7 linked regions of the Homo sapiens genome follow. The protein of the gene in region 1 purifies or fractionates together with the protein of each later gene. This does not show direct contact. Each region holds a gene or a part of one and is shown in the gene's direction. Other genes may lie near its edges.

Region 1 (3,500 bases):
TCCTTTTTCACCTTGCTCCCAGGATCTGAACTGACTGCTCAGGTGGTCAGGAACTATAACCTCCATGGACAAAGGTAGATACCCTCTCGTGACCCTCTTAGACTCCATTGGCACTTAGATTTATTGCTTAATGCACTGTATTGTAAACATGTCTTTACTGGTCTGTTTTAGCCACGAGACTGGAGCCTTTTGAAGACAAGAATTAATTATGTGTTAGCATTATAATCTGCCATTTATTGGGTACTTACTAAATGCTGAACACTATGCTAGGTGTTTCGTCTGTAGTATCTAAAATATTTATAACAGCTGCCGGGCGCAGTGGCTCACACCTGTAATCCCAGCACTTTGGGAGGCCAAGGTGGGTGGATCACTTGAGGTCAGGTGTTCAAGACCAGCCTGGCCAACATGGTGAAACCCTGTCTCTACTAAAAATACAAAAATTAGCCAGGCATGGTGGCACACACCTGCGATACCAGCTACTCCGGAGGCTGAGGCAGGAAAATTGTTTGAACCCAGGAGGCGGAGGTTGCAGTGAGCCAAGATTGCACCACTGCACTCCAGCCTGGGTGACAGAACAAGACTCCATCTCAAAAAAAAAAAAAATGTATATATATATATATATATATATATATATATTTATATTTATAACAGCTTTTCAAAGTATGTATTATTATCTCCATTTATCAGGCAAAAAAAACTGAGTAAAAGAGTGTCCTTTGCCCATCATCATTCACTCATTTAGTAAACATTTATTGTAGCCTTACACACCAGGACTTACGCTACATGCTGTAGACATGAGGATGAACAAAGCTGATACCACTCTGCCTTCATGGAACTTCTTGGTGGGTAGAGGAGACGATATTCAAAAATTATTTTACAACCCATGGCAAGTGTAATGTAGCCTGAAGCCTATCTGACTGCCCTGGATTGAAGCCACCTCTACCCTTACCAGCTAAGCAACCTTGGGCAGCTCTGTTAACCTCTCTGCACCTCATCTTCCTTTTCTGTAAAATGGGGATAATAGTAGTAGCAACTCCATAGGGGTGCTGTGAAGAATTAAAAAATTAACCCAGGCACACAGAGAAGGGCCCCTGCACATTCCAGGCATATTGCTGCTGCTGCTGATGATGATGATGATATGAAAGAGAGGCATGGGGTGCTCGTATGTGATAGAGCAGGACCTACTTCAGGGGACATCTGATTGAGGTCTACAAGATGAATAGGTGTTACCTTGGCAAAGTGTGTGGGAGGCAGGGGAGGGGAACAGAGTGTTGGAGGGATGTTCCAGGCAGAGAGAACAGCATGTCAAAGCATAGGGGGCGGGCTTACCTGAGGAACTGCAAGGAGTGAAGCTGAAATGGGCCCGGCTGGGAAGCAGGAGCCTGTGCTACAAACACAGCTCCAGGACCGGGTTCTCTGCACCACAGTCTTGATCCAGGCCATGGGAGGTGCTCAGTAAATGTTTGTCAAGTGAGCGAGCAGCTCATGGACAAACGGCTATGCTGGGCCCACATGGTTCTGTTGTCACCCAAGTCCATTGTCCCATATACAGCATGATATGTAGACAGCCCCTTCCCAGCTGTCACACTGTATACATCCATGTTTTGGTCCCTCTTTTCTTGACAGTAAACTAAATCCTGTGAGTTTGGGTGCAGACCTCCAATATCTGGGACTCACTGAGGTGGCCGCAGCTAGAATCCCCATGCTATAGCCAGGGGCTCAGATCTAAGCCAATGGTATTCAGACTCTTTAGTAGCAGAACTCTGCCTTGAAATAATCTTAGCAGAAATCCAGTATATGGTACAGGGACAGGCAGAGCTTCTGCCCTTGAGGGGCAGACATAGGGCCTCAGCCCCTGTGCACCTGAGAAAACACTAGGGCTCTGTAAAGCACAGTTAGAAAAACTAGGGTTGAACCCAAACCCCATCTTCCAGGTGGGGAAACTTAAGATCCAGAGAGGGAGTGACTCTCCGGAGTCACTAGGGACAGACCCAGAACTGGCCCCAGACATCTGGTATCAATTCTGCTACACCAAGATTTTCCGGCACTTCGCCCTAACTGCCCCCAGCCCCTCTCATCGTGCAGGGAGTCTTGAGATGGGGTGGGGGCACATGGATGTGGTCTTGTCAAGAGTCTAGCCTCCAGCCCCAGTTAGGGCATGGCCCACATGAGACAAAAATCCACAGGGCAGGCATGGGTGGGTTGCTCAGGGTCATGGCCTGGTTATGCCATGTCTTTTTTTTTTTCCTGCTGCTGCTTCTTTTTTAATTGAGTTTGAGGTGGTTGTTTTTTGTTTCCTTAAGAAATGGAAAAGAATGAAGCTGCGTAAATACAACTATATTAACTCCCTGGAAAACCTCCTGCCATTTTAACTCTGTTACTGGAGAAATAAAAGAGAAATAATTTGTCCACCCACACTTAGCTCTTTCTGACGAAGGTAGGTGAATATTGCTTTGCTAATCGAGGGTGACTGCTGGAAGTGGAGCCACGCTGACTGATCCCAGATTGAGAGGCAGCCACAGCCACCCCAAAAGGGGTGGCAGAGCCCTGCCTGTGGACAGGGCCGGAGTCATCGGCCCGCATGGCCCATCTTCCACAGGTCTCCCCCAGCCGATAGTGATGGAGGCACTGGACGAGGCTGAAGGGCTCCAGGACTCACAGAGAGAGATGCCGCCACCCCCTCCTCCCTCGCCGCCCTCAGATCCAGCTCAGAAGCCACCACCTCGAGGCGCTGGGAGCCACTCCCTCACTGTCAGGAGCAGCCTGTGCCTGTTCGCTGCCTCACAGTTCCTGGTAAGGATGGCACAGGCCTCACAAGGGTCTGGAGAGAGGGTGGGTGGAGGGCCAGCCTCCCACTTCCTCCCCAGGATGGCCACCTGGAAGGCAGGAGGATAAGGGGCCTCCCTGGTGTTCCTCAGGAGCTCCAAGCCCTCAAGGCTGGGATAAGGGGAAGGCTGGAATTCTGAGCTACCGCACCAGCATCTGAGACCTCACACCCTGCCTCCCTAACCTAAGAATCCAGAACACAGGGCCTCCCCGACCCCTGAGCTCCCAGCCGTACAGGGTTCTCCTGAGAACTCCTGTCTGTGGAGGCCTTTCTAGGAGACTACTCTTTTGATGTACATATTTGTGAGGTCCTCTCTGGAAAGGGCTTTCTCTTGGTTCCCTTCAGTCAGCTTTTCTCCAAGGAGAGTCCTGAGGCCTCCCCGGGCACGCAGCACCGGGGCCCTGCTCTCAGCTGCCCGGTCTGGACCTTAGAGGTTCAGGAGCCTCCATGCAGGGCCAGGTTGAGGCTGCAGGTGAGCTCTGCTGGGGGAACACGGGGGAAGGGGGCCGGCTCCATACTCAGCCTGCTCCCCTGTGCCCCAGCTTGCCTGTGGGGTGCTCTGGTTCAGCGGTTATGGCCACATCTGGTCACAGAACGCCACAAACCTCGTCTCCTCTTTGCTGACGCTCCTGAAACAGCTGGAACCCACGGTAAGTAAGCTTTGGGGAGTCCT
Region 2 (3,500 bases), on another chromosome or scaffold:
AAAAAAGGGTGTCATCGTAACTTCCTGGGACTGTTGTAGGAATTACACAAGACAGTGTGCAGTAGATGCCTAGTGTGTTGGGAATACCCAGTAAATGGTCCTCATTTTTATACTTGCTATTATCACCATTACAAAACCTTTTCTGAACTTCCCAGCTAGAGTTAATGTTTTCAGAACACTTCGATCCTCTCTTCTAGCTCTTTCATCATTCTGCCTTGTGGTGTAGCAATATGTTGGCTTTTCTGTCAGCCTTGCTGGCCAGGGAGGTGCCAGAGGGTAGGGCCAGCAGGCCTTTTCATTGTTCTGTTTCTCCAGTGCCTGATGGAGGCATCATTCCCAGCTCGCCCTTGAAGAAAGCAGGGCTGCAGGCTGCTCTGGGGATTCCCAGTGGGGCCAGCTCACCCTCTGTCCTGTGGTTGCAGGTGCGGGAATGGAAGGAGCAGGGTAGCAAGACCTTCATGTGCACGGGGCGCCCTGGCTGGCTCACTGTCTCACTACGTGTCGGGAAGTACAAGAAGACACACAAAAACATCATGATCAACCTGATGGACATTCTGGAAGTGGACACCAAGAAACAGGTGAGAGTAGCACTTTTCCGGGCTCTGGGAGCAGGTGGGGCACTGCCCCTGGTGCAAGTGACTCATAGGGAGATGATTTTAGCCAAGGGCATTGCAGAGTGGACAGGACCAATGCCCACAGTCATAGAAGATACTCCCTGCCATTGCTGTCCTCAAGCCTCACAGCCACCAGGGGAGAGATGGGTCATAATAGGTCAGGGGAACCCTTTGCGTTTCCACAGGAAGTCAGGAATGGGGAATTCGTGAGCAAAAATGAGAGGCAAAAAGGAATCTACTTACCCCTTCCTGATAAGGAAGTGTGCTGGTAAAAAATGGGCTACAGAAGTGACTGAGAGACATGGGTCTTGTTACAAGCTTCCTGGAAACCCTCTTGTTTAATAGCCTTCGAAATGTACATACTTTTTGGCCCATCTAGTAATTTTACTTCTCGAAACCTGGCTTAAGGAAAAAGGAAATAGGCTTCAGTATAAAGATACCCAACACAGAGTGATTATATCACAGCTTTATTTCTAATTGACAACAACACAATATCCAATAATAGGGTAGTCATTAAATATGGTATGTCTACTTGATGGCATTTTGTTATTATTGTGAGACCTTGGCCAAGTTACTTAATCTCTCTGTGCCATTTTTTTTAATAGCTTTATTGACGTATTTAAAGTGTGGTAAAACTCTTACCACAATCAAGACAACAAACATACCCATCACACCCCAAAATCTCCTCATGCTCCTTGGTAATCCCTTCCTCTAGCCCCTAGCCCTGCCTCTTCCCCTACCCGCCCCCCACAGCCTTAGGCAAACAATGACCTTTCTGCCACTATAAATTAGTTTGATTCTAGAGTTTATATAAATGGAATCATACAGTACTTTTTGTTTGTCTAGCCTCTTTCACTCAACATCTTTATTTGGAGATTCATCCATGTTGAAAGGTGTGTCAATAGTTCATTCTCTTTCACTGCTGAGTCATATTCCCACACATATTGTGTGGATGTATCACAGCTGGTTTATCCATTCACCTACTGATGGACATTTTGGCTGGCTCCAGTTTGGGGCAATTACAAATAAAATGGAACATTTGTGAACAGTCTTTGTATGGGCACATGCCTTCCTTTCTCTTGGGCAAATATCTAGGAATGGAATGGCTAGATCATAAGGTGGGTGTACATTTAACTTTTTAAGGAAGTGCCAAATTTTTTTTCCAAGTGATTGTAGCATTTTACATTTCCACCAGCAGCGTGAGTGTTGTTCTTGTTCCACATTGTAATAGACTTGATATGGTTAGTCTTAATTTTAGCCATTCTAATAGATGTGTAGTAGTTTTTCATTGTAATTTTAATTCACATTTCCCTAGTGACTAATGATCTTTCCATGTGCATGTTTGCTATTTGTATATCTTCTTTGGTGAGGCCTGATCAAATCTTTTGCCAATTTAAAAAAATTCAGGTGGTTTTCTTATATATTCTGGAAACATCTTTTTTTTTTTTCTTTTAAACTTTTAAATTAAGTGGTACCTGTACAGGTTTGTTATATAGGTAAACGTGTGTCATGGGGTTTGTTGTACATATTATTTCATCACCCAGGTATTAAGCCTAGTACCTATTAGTTATTTTTCCTGATCCTCTCCCTTCTCCCTCCCTCCACCCTCTGATAGGACCCAGTGTCTGTTGTTCCCCTGTATGTGTCCATGTGTTCTCATCATTTAGCTCCCACTTATAAGTGAGAACATGCGGTATTTGGTTTCCTGTTCCTGCATTAGTTTGCTAAGGATAATGGCTTCCAGCTGCATCCATGTTCTTGCAAAGGAACATGGCTGCATAGTATTCCATGGTGTATACGTACCACATTTTCTTTATCCAGTCTACCACTGATGGGCATTTAAGTTGATTCCATGTCTTTGCTATTGTGAGTTGTGCTGCAGTAAACATACACATGCATGTGTCTTTATGATACAATGGTTTATATTCCTTTGGGTATATATACCCAGTAATGAGATTGCTGGGTCAAATGCTGCTTCTGTTTTTTGGTCTTTAAGGAATCACCACACTGTCTCCCACATGGTTGAACTAATTTACACTCCCACCAACAGTGTATAAATGTTCCTTTTTCTCTGCAACTTCACCAGCATCTGTTATTTTTTGACTTTTTAATAATAGCCATTCTGACTGTGTCAGATGGTATTTCATTGTGGTTTTGATTTGCATTTCTTTAATTATCAGTAATGTTGAGCTTTTTTTCATATGCTTCTTGGCCACATGCTTGTCTTTTGAAAAGTGTCTGTTCATGTCCTTTTTATATTCACTTTTTAATGGGGGTTGTTTTGTTCTTGTAAGTTTGTTTAAGTTCCTTATTGATGCTGGATATTAGACCCTGAAACAACATCCTTTATTAGATTCATGATTTGCAAATATTTTCTCACAGTCTGTGGCTTCTCTTTTGAAAACCAGAAGCTTTATTTAGTTTTTCTTTTTGAGACAGAGTTTCACTCTGTCGCCCTGGCTAGAGTGCAGTGGCACGATCTTGGTTCACTGCAGCCTCCGCCTCCCAGGTTCCGGTGATTCTCCTGCCTCAGCCTCCTGGGTAGCTGGGAGTACAGGCATGTGCCACCACACCCAGCTAATTTTTTGTATTTTTAGTAGAGACGGGGTTTCACCATGTTGGCCAGGCTGGTCTCAAACTCTTGACCTCAGGTGATCTGCCTGCCTTGGCCTCCCAAAGTGCTAGAATTACAGGCGTGAGCCACCACGCCTGGCCAAATCAGAAGTTTTAATTTTTCCCAATTTGTTAATTTCTTCTTTTATGCATTGTGGGGGTTTTGTTTGTTTGTTTGTTTGTTTGTTTATATTTTTGTTTTTTGAGACAGAGTCTAGCTCTGTGGCCCCGGCTGGAGTGCAGTGGTGCTATCTCAGTTCTCGGCAACCTCCA
Region 3 (3,500 bases), on another chromosome or scaffold:
AATCTGGGAGGTGGAGGTTATGGTGAGCCAAGATCGTGCCACTGCACTGCAGCCTGGCGACAAAGCGAGAGACTCAAAAAAAAACCCACATAATTTAGTAGACAAAATTAACTAAAAGTTAGAATGTGTTATTTAGACAAGATACAGATGTGGAGTAAGGCCACAGGGCCTCCAATTTGGCTTACGATAGGGGTGGGGGATTGTTAAATACGAATTGTGTGGTCTGAGTAATCAGCTGAAGCCAGCGGGTGAACTGGCCTGACAGACACCAAAGGAAGCCCTGAATTCTGAAGCAGTGTTGTTCCCAAGACAATTAAAGAAACGTGTGATCTGGAGAGCTCATGCCAGTCAGCCATTCTGCTAGCAGAAAAGATGTGCCGTGTTACAGCAGATCCCCCACAGCTGCAGAATCCTCAGAATTTGCGGATTAATGTTAAACTGCCAAGCTTAACATTTCAAGGACCAGATTTTAATTAAATACAGGTTCATTTTGAAGCCTCTGAACCACTATTACATATCAGGGACACTTTTTTTTTTTTTTGAGACAGAGCCTTGCTCTGTTGCTCAGGCTGGAGTACAGTCGTGTGATCTTGCCTTACTACAGCTTCTGCCTCCAAGCTTCGAGAGATTCTCATGCCTCAGCCTCCTGAGTAGCTGGGACTACAGGTGCATGCCACCACACATAGCTAATTTTTTGTATTTTTGGTAGAGACGGGATTTCACCATGTTGCCCAGGCTGGTTATTTCAGTTTTGTGAAGGACACCATATAGGAGAAGACTGCTTTAGGATTGACTTTAAAAGTATTTGTGAGCTGTCAATTTTAACTTTAAAAGGAGTTAAAGGAAACTCCTATTAGAAGTCTCCAATGCCTGCATCACCAAAGAGTTGAAATCTTTGAGGACAGCAGGTCCTCTGTAATGAGTGCTTTTTCACTCCTCCTGGTTTCTGTTCTTGTTTTCCCCTTTGCAGCGCCTTTGGACGGGAGATGCTGAAGCGGAACATCGGTGTCGTTGTGGTTGGATTTCCTGCCACCCCAATTATTGAGTCCAGAGCCAGGTTTTGCCTGTCAGCAGCTCATACCAAAGAAATACTTGATACTGTAAGTAGGCACTTTCACCTTGATATAAATATGCCTTTTATTAAAAGGGCCTGTATATTAGATGAAATTCATAATATATTGATCTTGATGTTCTTGTGAGCACCTAAGACAGAGGGGGTGACAGTGCTACCAAAAACATTGGCATTTACAAAAAAACTGTCACCCACCACACCTGCATCATGAGAGCTCTGGAGAATTTTCCGGCTTTGTCTTGCTCTACTGTCTCCCTCACTATGGACTCTACAATTCTCTTTCCACTCTAGCTATTTCTACATTAAGCTTTCTCATATGTTGTTCTGTCTAAAATTTTCTCTCTTGAGCTTTCTCTCCCCTCTGCCTGGCTGACTGCCACTCATTCTTCACATCTCCATTTAAAGGAAAATTGCTCAGGGGCGCCCCACACCTTCTTGCTCTGTGTTCCCTTGGAATCCTGAGATTCTCCCTTACTAAATTCTTCACACCTATAATTATTTAATAGCAGTCTTCTCCATTAGATAAATATTGAGGATAGGAATAAGTCTGTTTTACTGATTCTATATCCCAGCACCCACCACACTGCCAGGCATCTAGTTGGGGATCATTATTACTAAGCTTAATTATTTATTATCTCAAGATATTCTCATCTCTATATATTCTCTTAATATGTTATTGTTGCAAGTCTAAGATTTCAGAGTTTAAATCATTATTGCCATCTGGGAGTTTATAAAGCTTTAGAACATGACATTTGCATAAAATTAGTTGCTAGAAATATCCATTAATGAGTTAGAGAGCTACTAATTTTTTTTTTCTTTTTTGAGAGAGAGTTTTGCCCTTGTTGCCCAGGCTGGAGTGCAATGGCGTGATCTCAGCTCACCACATCCTCTGCCTCCTGGGTTCAAGCAATTCTGCCTCAGCCCCCTGAGTAGCTGGGATTACAGGCATGCGCCACCATGCCCAGCTAGTTTTGTATTTTTAGTAGAGTCAGGGTTTCTCCATGTTGGTCAGGCTGGTCTCGAACTCCCGACCTCAGGTGATCCGCCTGCCTCAGCCTCCCAAAGTGCTGGGATTGCAGGCGTGAGCCACTGCCTGGCAAGAGCTACTAATCCTAAAGAACATTATGAATGCTTCTTTATAAAAGTTAATTATAACAATTTGATGGACATTTTGTATTCCTGAATAGCCGAAGACTTGACTTTTCTTCTCTGTTTCTACACAGCAAAATTTCTATGAGTATAAGTGTATTCCCTTTTAAAAAACAAAATTGTAGTAAGAACACTTAACATGAGATCTGTCCTCTTAACAAATTTTTCCATGTCGAATACAGTATTGTTAACTATAGGCACAGTGTTGTGAGCATATTCTTAATTACATTCTGACAATATCCAATTAGATTCAACTTTTTGATATTGTATCTTTTTTTTCTTTATTTTGATTATGCCTGTCAGATTTTTCCAATGGATTTTTCTCATTTCTCAGAAATTTTACTGGTGAATTTCTGTGATGATTTTTTTTAACCTAGAGATTTCAGCTTTTCTTTCCTTCCTACTCTATTGATGTTTTAAGAATTTTCTTTTTTCTTTCTCATGTTCACCTGTTAACTCAGAATTTCAATGTGCCTTTAAAAAAAAGTCTGTGTAACTATAACCAGTGTCTATGGCAGTAATCCATGCCTTCTGACCACAACTTTGACTTCTGAGAACTGTACACATTCATGAAAGAATTTAGATGTAACCAGGATATCTCCTTAGGATATCTAAGGAGATTTCTGTTGCCAACAAGTATGTTTGCCAACTGAGAGTTCTAATCCTTTTCATAAGATTCTCTTGAGGGATTGTTGGGCTTTGCCTCCCATTTAGTTTTTTAAAGCATAAAGTGCATTTTTTGAAACCATGGATTTGTTAAAGTCATTTTGTCTTATGATGTTTTATGGAACTAAACGTGTACTAGACCATTATGAGATACAAATTAATTTTCATTTAATAATGGGCCTCATGACATGATTCTGTATATAGAAAGTGCTGTAAAATACACACACACACATGCGCGCGCGCGCACACACACACACACACAGCTAGAGCTCATAAATGAATTCATCAAAGTTGCAGGGTAAAAGATCAGCACACAAAAAATTAGTGCTTTTATACACCAGCAATGAACAAATGAAAAGAAAATTTCTTTTACAATTTTCAAAAGAAGAAAATACCTAGTAATAAACTTAAGAAAGCCTTTCCTGGCTGGGTGCGGTGGCTCACACCTGTAATCCCAGCACTTTGGGAGGTCAGGCGTTTGAGATCAGCCTTGCCAACACAGTGAAACCTCATCTCTACTGAAAATACAAAAAATTAGCCAGGCATGGTGGGGGGCACCTGTAATCCCAGCTACTCGGGAGACTGAGGCGGAAGAACCACTTGAATCTGGGAG
Region 4 (3,500 bases), on another chromosome or scaffold:
GCCTTTTGGCTACAATCAAGTATGATATTCGTGCCAGGTACAGTGGCTCATGTCTGTAATCCCAGCACTTTGGGAGGCTGAGGCGGGTGGATCACAAGGTCAGGAGATCGAGACCATCCTGGTTAACACGGTGAAACCCCGTCTCTACTAAAAATAAAAAAAATTATCTGGGCATGGTGGCGGGAGCCTGTAGTCCCAGCTACTCGGGAGGCTGAGGCAGGAGAATGGCATGAACCCGGGAGGCGGAGCTTGCAGTGAGCCGAGATCATGCCACTGCACTCCAGCCTGGGCAACAGAGCAAGACTCTGTCTCAAAAAAAAAAAAGTGTAATATTCGCATACTTGGGAAAGAACTGCACCAAGCTGGCTTTTGGATGGCCTTGCTCTGCTCAAGTTTGCAGTAACCCACATTTCTTTCTTTATAGCTCAAGGACATGGTGCCAAAGGAGACAATGTCTATGAATTTCACCTGGAGTTCTTAGACCTTGTGAAACCAGAGGTATGTTCTTTCCTTTCTCACTTCCCTTCCCATTTTAGGAAATGAATACCAGTAGTTTAGTGAAATGGGGAGCAGGGTTTGTGGAGAGAAGAAGATAAAAACCAAAGGGGAATAATAGAGTTCTTTTATTTGGAACAGAGCCCAGGTTTTAGCTGCAGAGGAATGGGAAAGTCAGAGACCCCAAGTTGAGTCAGGGCCCTGCCATTTATTAGCAGTGTGATCTTGAACAAGTCTCTTAACTTCTTCGAGTTCTGGTGTTCTCATGTGTTAAATGAAGGTCTGGACTAAGTGATCCTTCCAGCTCTGATATTCTCTGGTTTTAGTGATGGCAGAGGAATATGGCACCCATTGAGAACAGAGTTACATAGAGTGGTTGAAGCCCCCACCAGGGGTTACTTTCATGTGACTTTGCCACAGTTGCAGGTGAGAAAAATAGAAATCAGAAAGGGTGAAGGCAGCTGGCCTTCAGAAAGAATGCTGCAGATATCATCAAAACTTCCCTTCCCTTAGAGCCTGAGGAAGCTTCTCTCATAAGCAGGGAGAGAATCCAATAGATGGGGTATTTTGGCTTCTGGAATTACACTTAGCTCTGGTGGCTTGAGCTTCTTGATTTCCGTGCGCAGGTGCTCAGTTGTTTTGAGAAAGCATGAATAATAACCAGTGGTACAGTGGGCAGAGAACCTGTCATGGAGCTTCCTTTGGAGAAAAGGGACAGGACATGTAGACAAACAATGAGCTGGAATGGCCTATAAGAATTTGAGTTTAGTTGGGAAGACTCCCCAAATTGACCCCTGTGAAAAAATCTGTAACTGATCCAATACAGTTCTGATCTTGATGCAGGTGTTTCTAAAACCGGGGTCTGCTGAGCCAGGACAGTCATTTTCATGGGAGGAAAATTTATAAGCTGAGGGTAATTGGATGCAGTACCCTTGAGAGGGTGATTGGACATAGTACCTTGCATGATGTGGCTGTGGCAGGAGGTTCATGCTAGTTCCCTCCAGCCTAACCAGGAACTATTTGCCTTTCTTATCCTGATATCCTCCTGTATCATTCACTGGGGGAATCAGAGAAGGACATTATGTCCTTACCAGTTCTCCATGCCAGCCGTTGGTCTAGATCAACCTTTTTGGCACCAGGGACCAATTTTGTGGAAGGCACTTTTTCCACAGATGGTGGAATGGGGATGGTTTCAGGGTGATTCAAATGCATTACATTTGTTGTGCACTTTATTTCTGTTATTATTACATTGTAATATATAATGAATACAACTCACCATAATGTAGAATCAGTGAGAGCCCTGAGCTTGTTTTCTTGCAACTAGACAGTCCCATCTGGGGGTGATGGGAGACAGTGACAGATCATCAGGCATTATAGTCTCATAAAGAGTGAGCAACCTAGATTCCTTGCATGCACAATTCACAATAGAGTTCACGCTCCTATGTGAATCTTGTGCCAATGCTGATCTGACAGGAGGCAGGGCTTAGGCAGTAATGCAAGTGATGGAGAGCGAGTCTAAATATAGGTGAAGTTTCACTCACTTGCCCACCACTCAGCTCCTCCTGTGTGGCCCGATTCCCAACAGGCCATGGACCAGTATCAGTCCATGGCCCAGGAGTTGGAGACCCCTGGTCTAGATGTTCCCTTTGCATCAGGACTTGCAGGACCAGAGAAAGAAGGAGAATAAATATATCCTGCAGCTTCTATGTACGGCGCCCCTGGCATGGTGCTGCTTCAGGGAACAGAAGAGGGCATTCTCACATTTTCACTTTCTCTCCTAGCCTGTTTACAAACTGACCCAGAGGCAGGTAAACATTACAGTACAGAAGAAAGTGAGTCAGTGGTGGGAGAGACTCACAAAGCAGGAAAAGCGACCACTGTTTTTGGCTCCTGACTTTGATCGTTGGCTGGATGAATCTGATGCGGAAATGGAGCTCAGAGCTAAGGTTAGTAAGGATCCTAGGATCTAGCCATTGAGGACAAATCATGGGGAACCCACGTTATTCAGGCCACTTCAGATACCTCTCGGTCTGAAAGAATAGCTACAAAGTTACAAATTCATTTAAAGACCTGGTGATGTGATTTTCAAGAAGTATTGGCTATGTATTTTATAGACTTTCCTTCGGTTGAAATCTGTCTGATGTTTCTCTTACAACTAGACTAAGGTGATAGATGTTGAGGAGAAGACCACTGAAGTAAAGTGCAATTCTTATCACATCATATCAAGAGTACATACGGCCGGGCACGGTGGCTCACGCCTGTAATCCCAGCACTTTGGGAGGCCAAGGTGCGTGGATCACGAGGTCAGGAGATAGAGACCATCCTGGCTAGCACAGTGAAACCCTGTCTCTACTAAAAATACAAAAAATTAGCCGGGCGTGGTGGTGCATGCCTGTAGTCGGAGCTGCTCAGGAGGCTGAGGCAGGAGAATGGCGTGAACTCGGGAGGCGGGGCTTGCCGTGAGCCGAGATCACGCCACTGCACTCCAGCCTGGGCAACAGAGCGAGAGTCTCAAAAAAAAAAAAAAAAAGTACATACTGTCAACGTGACACATCACTGTTGATATTAACCATGGGTTAGCTGGCTTGAGGTGACGCTTATCAGGTTTCTCTACCATAAGGTTATTTTCCTCTTGGCTCTCCTTGGAAGGAAGTCACTATGTGTAGCCTACATTTAAGGAGCAGGGAGTTATGCTTCCTGTCCTTTAGATGGAGGGAGTATCTACATAATTTATTTGGAATTCTTCTGCATAGGAGAATAATTATGCATGTCTATTGTCTCCCATTTATTTATTCAATCATTTATATCATGTGAGTACATGGGTATTTATTTTATACTTTGAGTTATAATCTAATATTATTTATTTTGTTGCTCAAATTCTTCCAGCTTTGGCACTAACTGGCCTTTGGTTATGTCCTCATCCTGCCCATCTTTCATTTGGCTTTTGTATCTTTTTGAGAAAGCGCCATCATTATGGGACTGTTTTTTTTTTTTTTTTTGAGCAC
Region 5 (3,500 bases), about 53 Mb from region 1:
GAGCCTGGCTTTGTGCCTCTCACGTGGGTGCAGACTGGAACCGCATCCCAACTCTGCCCCCAGAAGCTCCCTGTTTTGAGGGGTGGATGGGCTGAGGTGCTCCCCAACAATTACAGAGGGGGCCAGGCATACCACAGGGGCATCCTCACTTGCTTCTGCCCCTCAGCCCTGACCTCCCTATCAGACTGCACACCTGTCACTCAGCCTATGGCCAGTTAACGAGATGCAGAACCAAAGGATGGACTCAGCCTCCCCTCCCTCTTCCTAGGAGCAGGTAGTTCCTTGGCCAAGGGTATAGGGGCCTCAGAGATGGTTCCTGGGGCCCCAGATGAGGGTCCGCAGCAGCAGAGGCCCAGAAAGTGACCAGGGCCCCCGCCAGGCATGCTTCAGCCCAGCCAAGCTCCTCACTGCGGGTTGGGAAAGCGCCTTCATTTCTGAATCCTTCATCTGCAGGGGTTGTGAACAAGTATCAGATCAATGGCCTGCAAGCCTGGCTCCTCACGCACCTGCTCTGGTTTGCAAACGCTCATCTCCTGTCCTGGTTCTCGCCCACCATCATCTTCGACAACTGGATCCCACTGCTGTGGTGCGCCAACATCCTTGGCTATGCCGTCTCCACCTTCGCCATGGTCAAGGGCTACTTCTTCCCCACCAGCGCCAGAGACTGGTATGTTCTTAGCAGCGGGTCCAGCCTGATGTAGAAAGTGCAAACTTCACCCCTGGCCTTTCTTGCTGCCTGGGGCAGGTGGTTGTAAAGCCCTGAGCACTGAGAATCCGTGGAAGAGGAGGAGGGGGATGGAACTTGCTTCACCCTGGGGAACATCCTTTCTGAATGTTTGGTGGCTTCTCCAGCCTTGGCAAGAATGCAGCTGAAGATGGCCAGGTCAGCTGTGGTGGCCAAGTCATTGCCTTTAGGGCTGGCGTGGGGGTAAGGAAGCCAGGAAAAACTTCTGGCTTGGGGCACAGGCAGCCCATTGCCTCTTTCTTTGGATAAGCTGGTGAGGCCCAAAACAACCTTAGTGAAGAGTCTTATTGTCCCTGTGGCTTTAATTAACAGCTTCCCAGGAGAGCCCTGCTGGCTTGTACCCATTCCCATGGCTGGACAGTGGTGAGCCACTCATCTCTGTCCACTCATCCATTCACCTGCCCATCTCCCCACCCACCCATCCACCCCCCTACCCATTCATCTACCTACTCACCCATCATCCACCTACCCATTGCCCCATCCCATTCACCCACCCACCAATGCATCATCCATCCACCTATCCATCACCCACATCCACCCACCCATCATCCATCCATCTACCCTCCCATCACCCATTCATCCATCTGCCCATCCACCTACCCACCCACCTACACATCTAGCCACACACCCATCCACCTGCCCATCTCCCCATCCTTCCACCTACCCACCCACCCATCCATCATCCATCTCATCCACCTGCCCATCCACCCTCCACCCCGTCTGTCTACCCACCCGTCATCTATTTGTCCATCCACCTATCCACCTACCCACCCACCTACACATCTAGCCACCCACCCATCCACCTGCCCGTCATCCATCCATTTACCCATCCATCCACTCTATCAGGGCCTGTAATGGCATGTGCCGAGGGGAAGGAATGCATCATCTCATCCAGGTCAACCTCCTGCCTGAGCAATGTCCGCAGCTCCTGACCGGCCTCCCTTACCCTCTCAGGCCCTCCTAGCCTGCTCCCTCTGGCTTCCTGGGTGACACTTCTGAACACACCTGATCCCTGCCACCCTGCACCCCAGCTCAACCCTGCCTATCATATATCCATCCACCTGCTCCTCTCCCCATCCCATTCATCCATCCTTCCACCCACTCACCCTGTTATCTATCCATCCATCCATCATAAACCAATGTTTGGGGGGTTCTCTTGTGGACAGTTGTAGGCAGTGGGACTTACAGTTCAGTTTGGGGGATCCAAAAAACCCCAGTGTGGTTTACACCTAGGCTCTTGGGAAATGTTTCTGGAGGATGACACTTTGTAGCTTGTGTGTTATCAGATAACGAGGCTGGCCTTCAATGGCTCCTGGAAATCATCCTCGCTACCTTATAATCATGTAGACTTTGTGTGTTTTGCTTCTTTCTACTTACCCTACCTGAGGGAACTGGACATGAAAATAGGATTTTCTAGTTAACACAGAAATTGTTGTGTGTCCTCAGCCAGCTAGACCTAGTCAGGGTCTCCACAGGGGTTATCTCGGCTGATGCTCTGGCCCTCCGGGGATTGGGGGATTCAGGTAACTGGTCAAAGAACTTGTCCTGCACATGCTGGAAGCCGGGCCCAGGGTGCGTTTGTCATTCTCTACGTTGGCGTGATTTATAATGTCACTCACCCATGAGGGCCCACGTGCCCTGCGTCGGCTTCAAACCGTGTGCTTGGGCCCCAGAACGTAATCTCAGTGCAATCAAGCCAGTTCTTCAGCTCACCTGTGCCATGCGTCAAGGGCATCTGGAGAAGGGTAGAGAGAAACCCAGGTACCAGCCCAGGGCCGGTCTCCCACCCTTCCCGGGTGCAGAGCAGGTGCCCCTGGGCTTCTGCCTAAGGAAGTCTCTGCTGAGCAGCAGCTGAATGCAAAGCAAAGTGAATGAGGGCGCCAGGAACCAGCCGACAAGCATTCCAGCCGTGGGGGTCCCAGCGGCTCATGGCCAGCTTCTGCCTGCGCCGTCTCACGTTACCCTTTAGGACCCTGGGCCAGTGCTGGGCTCTCGCTAAGTAAGGTGGCTTCATCTTGTGAGATATGCTCATCCACTAAATGTATCTTTTATTTATATTTTTAAGCAAATTCACAGGCAATTTCTTTTACAACTACATGATGGGCATCGAGTTTAACCCTCGGATCGGGAAGTGGTTTGACTTCAAGCTGTTCTTCAATGGGCGCCCCGGGATCGTCGCCTGGACCCTCATCAACCTGTCCTTCGCAGCGAAGCAGCGGGAGCTCCACAGCCATGTGACCAATGCCATGGTCCTGGTCAACGTCCTGCAGGTGCCTGTCATGGCTGGAGAGGGTGAAACGCCGATGCCGGCAGGCTCTGGGGGAACCCGCAAGCCAGAGCGTATTCCCATGACCTTAATCTACTGCTTGTAAAAGAGAGTCAGCTGCCCTCCCCAGGTGTCACCAGGAAGCAGCCGGCGAGCACTTGGTGAAGGAAGCCATCCTTGGGTGCCTGTCTCTGCCAGCCCTGGGAGGGGAGGAGGCAGGTTCTACGCAGCCAGGCGTGGTCCAGGAAGGTCTCCCTTGGGGATTACACCTGGGTAGAATCTGGGGGTGTGTGGGAGTTAACCTGGTAGAGTGGAGGCAAGAGTGCATGCTCCAGGAACCCCCTGTAGGGAGAGAGGGTGGCAAGTCTGGGACACTCAGAAACATCCCGCATCCTGACCAGAGAGCGTTCAGGAGCTCAGAGCCAGGTGAGGCTGGAGGCCTCATGGAAGTCTTCCTCTTTATCTTAAAAGCAGCAAGACCCAGAAAGT
Region 6 (3,500 bases), on another chromosome or scaffold:
TTCCCAGGCCTGTGGCAGGATCTGTGGACCTGTGTGTCCCCTGGGGTGTCTCATGGGGCTAAGGAGGGGACCTTTGTGCAGGTCTACGCACCCTGAGGTGTGCCCTGGGTAAGCTGGGGTGGTGTGGGAGGGCGTCCCTGCACCCTCATCTTGAGTCCAGGGGATGATAAGACAGTAAGTCCCGTGGAGAAAAGGAATGAGTCAGTCTTGTTTGCTGTTGTAACCTTAGCACCCAGCAACAATATTAGAGAAAGCAAGCCCAGGCCTCAGATGGCAGGGGTGGCCTGGTGCTGCTGATGTGGCTGGGCACCCCAACCTCTGGGAGCCTGCAGGCCTCGCCACGGCAGGAGATGCCTCTCCTGGGTCCCGGGCCTGCTCTATGGCCTCTCACAGGCTTTTTTTCTGCTCCTTCAGCTCAGAACCTGAGGACCCAGTCACGGAGCGGTCGGCCTTCACGGAGCGGGATGCTGGGAGCGGGCTGGTGACGCGTCTCCGTGAGCGGCCAGCCCTGCTGGTCAGCAGCACGAGCTGGACAGGTCTGCAGGACCCCTGGGGCACTTGGGGTTGGTGTGACGGGCACCTGGCCAACCTGTGTTCTCCTCACCCCTGCCAGTCCTGCATGCTCCCACCCTGCCACGGTCTCAATGAGAACGGGAGGGCCTGTGAGCTGGAAGAGGGGTGTCTAGAAACAGGCCCCTGACATTCAATTCTCTTCTCATAGAGGACGAAGACTTCTCCATCCTGCTGGCAGCTTTAGAAAGTAGGTGTGTGGCTGCGGTGAGGAGCTCTGGGCTTGTCGGGGGCCACTGAGCTGTAAGCTGCTTGCCTGGCCTGCAGCATGTTCCTGTCCCAGGCCACTGGGTGGGGCAGCCTGGGGACAGCGGGGGTGGTGGAAGTGGGCCGCCCTGAATCCCCAGTTGGGTCATTGAGTGACCAGGCCCTCAGGCTGAAATGCCCCCTCCAGGAGAGTATCTCACACAGGCTGGTGGCCTCCCCGCCAGAGCAGTGCTCTTTCTCCACCTGACCAGGTGACTCTGGCTATTGTTTATTTAAAAATTTTTTTCTGAATGGGCATGGTGGCTCAAACCTGTAATCCTAGAACTCTGGGAGGCCGAGGCAGGCAGATCATCTGAGGTCAGGAGTTCGAGACCAACCTGGCCAACAGGGCGAAACCTGTCTCTACTAAAAATACAAAAATTAGCTAGGTATGGTGGTGGGCGCCTGTCATCCCAGCTACTTGGGAGGCTGATGCACGAGAATTACTTGAACCCAGGAGGCAGAGGTTGCAGTGAGCTGAGATCGCGCCATTGCATTCCAGCCTGGGTGACAGAGTGAGAGTCTGTCAGAAAAAAAAAAAAATTCTATCAGAAATTCCATGTAGAATTGTTTCTTTTTCTAAACACAGAGTTTGAACAACTGACTCTTGATGGACACAACCTTCCTTCTCTCGTCTGTGTGATAACAGGTACTGCCTGGGACCCTGGGTGTCTGTTTGGTTGGGGGATGGCGGAGGGGGAGGGGCACGCAGCCTTTACCCTGTGCTTCCCATGATCTTGTCTCCTTAATCCTCACTGCAGCTCTGCCATAGGGTCTTATACTGCTTGACATGGGGGAAACTGAGGCTCAGAGGCAGGGCAGGGAGCCCAGATTTGAATCTGTAGATACCAAGCTTTCTACTTTTTCAGTAGTTTCCAAGCATCTTTTTTTTGTTGTTGTTACGTCATTGGTGTCTTTTTTTTTTTTTTTTGAGACAGAGTCTCTGTCGCCCAGGCTGGAGTGCAGTGGTGCGATCTCGGCTCACTGCAACCTCCGCCTCCCACATTCAAGCAATTCTCATGCCCCAGCCTCCCGAGTGGCTGGGACTACAGGTGCCCACCACAACTGCCTAATTTTTGTATTTTTAGTAGAGACAGGGTTTCACCATGTTGGCCAGGCTGGTCTTGAACTCCTGACCTCAGGTGATCCACCCGCCTTGGCCTCCCAATATGCTGGAATTACAGGCACAAATCACTGTGCCCGGCCATGTCATTGGTGCCTTAACCAAGCCTCTTAATTTTTCAAACGGAAGAGCCCCTGTCCCACAGTTACTGCTGCTGAGCCCTTTCAAGGTGACTCAGTGAGGAGGGAGAAAAGCGGAAGCGGTGTGGGAAGAGGCCGGGTCTGGGCCAGCTGCTGGTCCTGCTCTCCTCCCTCCTCTGGCCTCTAGGCTCCCAGGAGTGGTTTGGAACCCGCGCCATATGCTCTGGGGGCTGTGCCAGGGCAGGAGGAGTCCTCGTGTCCCCTGTGCACAACACAGACAAAAGGCTGGGTCCACCCAGTGGGCGGTCGGGTGCCAGGCCAGTGCTTACCCCGCCATGTTTGCAGCCCGAGGCCAGCTGGCTGCAGGTGAAAGGCTATGCGTCAGGGGTCAGGGTGCACACACCCCTGCAGGTCTCAGGGCTCCTGGGTTGCTTCTGGAAGGGCCCGGATGGGGCCTGACTGGAGCTGCTGAGGGGTGGAGCTTCTGGGAAAGGGATCCCTCCTAGGGGGGAGTGTCTTGGGCCTGGGGCCACGTGGCAGGGACAGAGATGGGTCCATGGCAGTGTCTGCTCTTCTCTGTGAAGGCAAAGGGCCTCTGAGGGAGTATTATAGCCGCCTCATCCACCAGAAGCACTTCCAGCACATCCAGGTCTGCACCCCCTGGCTGGAGGCCGAGGACTACCCCCTGCTTCTAGGTGAGAGGCCAGCAGGAGGCTCAGGGAGGAGGCGGGGGGAACAGGGTGGGCGGGATGTACTTTTTCTGAAAAGGTGGCTCTGGAGGCCACTGGGGGACGGGACCTGGGCTCTGGCTGAACTCCCAGGAGGAGGCTACTTCCTGGTGTGCCAGCCCCTCCCTGCCAGGTGGCCCCAGGGGCCGTTTACCAAGGGGTTTGAGGAGGCCACGTCCTTTCAGCCTGCCACGCCCTCCATTCAGTCCTCTTCCTTCCTGCAGGAGGGCTGGGCCTGGGGTTGGGGCCACTGTTGCCCAGGTGTGGGAGGGCAGTGGCTTTGGGAGGTACGGGGACGATGTGTCAAACAGCGTCGCCTCTCCCAGTGAGATGGTTCTCCTTTGCCTCCGTCTCTTTCCCCGTTGATTTCTCCAAGTGGGGAGTCGTGCCTTGGTCCTGATGCGTCTCTAGAGCTGCATCTTCCAGCTTCGAGTGAGCAGAGCAGTTGGAGGCTGAAGGCCTTTTCCTGGCAGGACTCTCCACCTAGTCTTTGTTTTAGACAGTCTCGCTCCGTTGCCTAGGCTGGAGTGCATGATCTCAGTTCATGCAACCTCTGCCTCCTGGGTTCAAGCGATTTTCCCACCTCAGCCTCCCGAGTAGATTACGGGATTACAGGAGCCCACCACAACACCTGGCTTATTTTTGTATTTTTAGTAGAGACAGGGTTTCACCATGTTGGCCAGGCTGGTCTTGAACTCCTGACCTCAAGTGATCCTCCTGCCTTGGCCTTCCTAAGTGCTTGGATTCCAGGTG
Region 7 (3,500 bases), on another chromosome or scaffold:
GGAGGTTGCAATGAGCTGAGATCCTGCCATTGCACTCCAGCCTGGGTGACAGAGCAAAACTCTGTCTCAAAAAAAGAAAGAAAGTAAGTAAGTAACAATTGGTCAATAAGTATTGAAACATTGTTTCTCATACAGTAAGTGTTCCAGAGTTATTTAGGTTGCAGTGAGTGGACATCGTGCCCCCCTGGGCGACAGAGCAAAACTCTATCTCAAAAAAAAAAAAAGAAAAAGTAACAGTTGGTCAATAAGTATTGAAACATTGTTTCTCATACAGTAAGTGTTCCAGAGTTATTTGCTACTTCTATAAAGCTGTGATTCAAGTATAATATATGCTTTTTGAGTTTGAGAAATTTAAAACAATAAAACCATTTTAAGAGAAACATCAAACCATCTCAGGTATATTTTAACTGGGTATAAGTGTGTCATCATGGTGACAAATTAATACCCATTTTATTTTCTCACACGCAGATTAATGTACCTAATTCTAGCTCATTTTCTTTTACAGTGACTATACGTGATCATCAGGTTAATATTTTATAAATGCTGAGAATTTATAATAGTTTTCTTATTGCCAGATGTATATCATTGACAGCTTTTTGCAATGTAGTCATGTAATCGTGTTGCAGGACTTGTTTTTAGAGGCTGGTGCATTTCTGATCTCCTGAGGTTCTATATGTGGGCTAATCCTTTTAGGGTTATTTTTCCTTCCTGGAGTACTTTCCTGTCTTTTGTTAGTCATTTTTATTTCAGAGCGGATTCTCATGAGTAGCCTTCACTGACTATCCTAAGCAAAACCTGATTTTCTTACTTTGTATTCCACTAGATTTACCTGGATTGTACCTTAATATTGTAGCTTTCATTTCAAAATGTAACCTGTTTTCTAGAGTAGATTTCATGTCATTAAGAGCTGAGGGGTATGTTCCTAGGTTCTGCCTCGTTTGACAAGTCTCAGTACACTGAAGAGAGAAAAGATATATTTATTATTTTTTATTTCAATATCTTTTGTGGTACAAGTGGTTTTTGGTCACATGGATGAATTGTATAGTGGTAAAGTCTGAGATTTTAGTGCACTCATCACCCAAGTGTACATTGTACCCAATATGTAGTTTTTTTTTAATCACTTACATGCTCTGCCACCCCCCTCCTCTGAGTCTCCATAGTCCGTTATGTCACTCTGTATGCTTTTGTGTACCTGCAGTTTAGCTCCCACTTATAAGTGAGAACATATGGTATTTGGTTTCCCATTTCTGAGTTACTTCACTTAGGATATTGGCCTCCAAATCCATCTAAGTTGCTGCAAGACATTATTTCATGTTTGTTTTTTAATGGCCGAGTAGTATTCCATGGGTATATATACTACACTTTTATCAGTGGGCACTTAGGTTGGTTCCCTATCTTTTTTTTTTTTTTTTTGAGACAGAGTTTCACTCTTGTTGCCCAGGCTGGAGTGCAATGGCACAATCTCGGCTTACTGCAGCCTCTGCTGCCCGGGTTCAAGCGATTCTCCTGCCTCAGCCTCCCGACTAGCTGGGATTACAAGCATGCGCCACCATGCCCAGCTAATTTTGTGTTTTTAGTAGAGATGGGGTTTCTCCATGTTGGCCAGGCTGGTCTTGAACTCCTGACCTCAGGTGACCCACCCACCTCTGCCTCCCAAAGTGCTGGGATTACAGGCATGAGCCACCGTGCCTGGCCAGTTCCATATCTTTGCAATGGTGAATTGTGCTGCAATAAACATACACATGCAGGTGTCTTTTTGATATAATGACTTCTTTTCCTTTGGGTAGATACCCAGTAGTAGAATTGCTGAATCAAATGGTAGACCTACTCTAGTTCTTTTTATGTCTATTCTAGTTCTTTAAGAAATCTCCAGGCTGGGCACAGTAACTTATGCCTGTAATCCCAACACTTTGGGAGGCTGAGGTGTGTGGATCACCTGAGATCAGGAGTTCAAGACAAGCCTGGCCAACATTGTGAAACCCTATGTCTCTACTAAAAATACAAAAATTAGCTTGGCATGGTGGCGTGCACTTGTAATCCCAGCTACTCAGGAGGCTGAGGCAGAAGAATCACTTGAACCCAGAAGACAGGTTGCAGTGAGCCGAGGTCACACCACTGCACTCCAGCCTGGGTGACAGAGCAAGACTCTGTCTCAAAAAAGAAAAGAAAGAAATCTTCCATACTGTTTGAAAAGATATGTTTCCCAATGTTTTCTTTGGTGTATTACCTGAAGTATTTACTTTAGATCATGTGTCTCACTTGAATAATATTGGATTTATGTGTGTGTGTATATGCAGTTGCTACTCTTTGGACTAATAATTTTCTGCTTGTTGGCTCAAAAATTTACCAACCACCTAATATATAGTCATGCATCACTTAACAGTAGAGATGCGTTCCAATAAGTGCATCATTAGTGGATTTCATCAAGTATACTGACACAAACCTAGATAGTACAGTCTCCTACGCACCTATGCTATATGGCATAACCTATTGATCCTAGGCTACAAACCTGTACTGCATTTTATTGTGCTGAATACTGTGGGCAACTGTAACACAGTGGTAAATATTTGGGTACCTAAACATAGAAAAGATCCAGTAAAAATACAGTATAAAAGATAAAAAATGGTACACCTGTTTAGAGCACTTAACATGGAGCTTGTCAGACTGGAAGCTGCTCTGGGTCAGTGGGTGAGTGAAAGTAAAGGCCTAGGACATTACTGAATGCTACTGTAGTATACTGTTTAAACACTATACCCCTTAGGCTACACTAAATTTATAACATACTTTTCTTCGATAATTAACCTTAGCTTACTGTATGTAACTTTTTAACTTTATGAACTTTTAAATTTTTTTAACTTTTTTTAGTAACATTTAGCTTAACGTACAGCTACTTGGAAGGCTAAGGTGGGAGGATTGCTTAATCTCAGGAATTCGATACCAGCCTGGACAAATAGGGAGACTTTGTCTCTTAAAAAATAAGTAACACTTAGCTTAAAACACAAGCACATTGTACAGCTTCACAAAAATATTTTCTTTATATCCCTACTCTATAAGCTTTGTCTTATTAAAAAAATTTTTTTTTTTAAACTTTTAAACTTCTTTGTTAAAAACTAAGACACAGATACATTAGCCTAGGCCTACACAAGGTCAGAATCATCAGTATCCCTGTCCTCCTCTACATCTTGTCCCACTGGAAGATCTTCAAGGGCATTAACATGCATGGATCTGTCATCTCTTATGATAAGAAGCCTTCTTCTAGAGTAGCTCTTGCCTTCAAGACCTGCCTTGAGGCTATTTTATAGTTAACTTTAAAAAAAAGTAGGAGTATACTAACATAACAAAAAGTATAGTATATGTATAGTAAACACATAAACCAGTAACACAGTTGTTTATTGTCATTCTCAAGTATATGTACTATACATTATTGTATTTGCTATACTTTTTTTTTTGAGACGGAGTCTTACTCTGTTGCCCAGGATGGAGTGCAGCGGTGCCATCTC

What was found.
Region 2: the proteins of PTPN5 (region 1) and DHCR24 purify together in Homo sapiens (affinity purification with mass spectrometry, with the first as the bait; one large-scale study listed by BioGRID). This does not show direct contact.
Region 3: the proteins of PTPN5 (region 1) and SPTLC2 purify together in Homo sapiens (affinity purification with mass spectrometry, with the first as the bait; one large-scale study listed by BioGRID). This does not show direct contact.
Region 4: the proteins of PTPN5 (region 1) and HACD3 purify together in Homo sapiens (affinity purification with mass spectrometry, with the first as the bait; one large-scale study listed by BioGRID). This does not show direct contact.
Region 5: the proteins of PTPN5 (region 1) and DHCR7 purify together in Homo sapiens (affinity purification with mass spectrometry, with the first as the bait; one large-scale study listed by BioGRID). This does not show direct contact.
Region 6: the proteins of PTPN5 (region 1) and ALG1 purify together in Homo sapiens (affinity purification with mass spectrometry, with the first as the bait; one large-scale study listed by BioGRID). This does not show direct contact.
Region 7: the proteins of PTPN5 (region 1) and TOMM70 purify together in Homo sapiens (affinity purification with mass spectrometry; one large-scale study listed by BioGRID and IntAct). This does not show direct contact.

What each region holds. Positions count from the first base shown.
Region 1 is NC_000011.10:18,743,299-18,746,798, reverse strand, and holds part of PTPN5 (tyrosine-protein phosphatase non-receptor type 5), read left to right. Parts: intron 1-2,599; coding exon 2,600-2,793; intron 2,794-3,369; coding exon 3,370-3,477; intron 3,478-3,500. UniProt on the Homo sapiens protein: May regulate the activity of several effector molecules involved in synaptic plasticity and neuronal cell survival, including MAPKs, Src family kinases and NMDA receptors.
Region 2 is NC_000001.11:54,880,696-54,884,195, reverse strand, and holds part of DHCR24 (delta(24)-sterol reductase precursor), read left to right. Parts: intron 1-422; coding exon 423-578; intron 579-3,500. UniProt on the Homo sapiens protein: Catalyzes the reduction of the delta-24 double bond of sterol intermediates during cholesterol biosynthesis.
Region 3 is NC_000014.9:77,515,638-77,519,137, reverse strand, and holds part of SPTLC2 (serine palmitoyltransferase 2), read left to right. Parts: intron 1-970; coding exon 971-1,100; intron 1,101-3,500. UniProt on the Homo sapiens protein: Component of the serine palmitoyltransferase multisubunit enzyme (SPT) that catalyzes the initial and rate-limiting step in sphingolipid biosynthesis by condensing L-serine and activated acyl-CoA (most commonly palmitoyl-CoA) to form long-chain bases.
Region 4 is NC_000015.10:65,554,463-65,557,962, forward strand, and holds part of HACD3 (very-long-chain (3R)-3-hydroxyacyl-CoA dehydratase 3), read left to right. Parts: intron 1-424; coding exon 425-498; intron 499-2,276; coding exon 2,277-2,441; intron 2,442-3,500. UniProt on the Homo sapiens protein: Catalyzes the third of the four reactions of the long-chain fatty acids elongation cycle. This endoplasmic reticulum-bound enzymatic process, allows the addition of two carbons to the chain of long- and very long-chain fatty acids/VLCFAs per cycle.
Region 5 is NC_000011.10:71,438,394-71,441,893, reverse strand, and holds part of DHCR7 (7-dehydrocholesterol reductase), read left to right. Parts: intron 1-453; coding exon 454-667; intron 668-1,057; coding exon of another isoform or gene 1,058-1,108; intron 1,109-2,810; coding exon 2,811-3,015; intron 3,016-3,500. UniProt on the Homo sapiens protein: Oxidoreductase that catalyzes the last step of the cholesterol synthesis pathway, which transforms cholesta-5,7-dien-3beta-ol (7-dehydrocholesterol,7-DHC) into cholesterol by reducing the C7-C8 double bond of its sterol core.
Region 6 is NC_000016.10:5,078,343-5,081,842, forward strand, and holds part of ALG1 (chitobiosyldiphosphodolichol beta-mannosyltransferase), read left to right. Parts: intron 1-414; coding exon 415-536; intron 537-721; coding exon 722-760; exon of another isoform or gene 761-764; intron 765-1,405; coding exon 1,406-1,465; intron 1,466-2,603; coding exon 2,604-2,714; intron 2,715-3,500. UniProt on the Homo sapiens protein: Mannosyltransferase that operates in the biosynthetic pathway of dolichol-linked oligosaccharides, the glycan precursors employed in protein asparagine (N)-glycosylation.
Region 7 is NC_000003.12:100,391,090-100,394,589, reverse strand, and holds part of TOMM70 (mitochondrial import receptor subunit TOM70), read left to right. Parts: intron 1-3,500. UniProt on the Homo sapiens protein: Acts as a receptor of the preprotein translocase complex of the outer mitochondrial membrane (TOM complex). Recognizes and mediates the translocation of mitochondrial preproteins from the cytosol into the mitochondria in a chaperone dependent manner.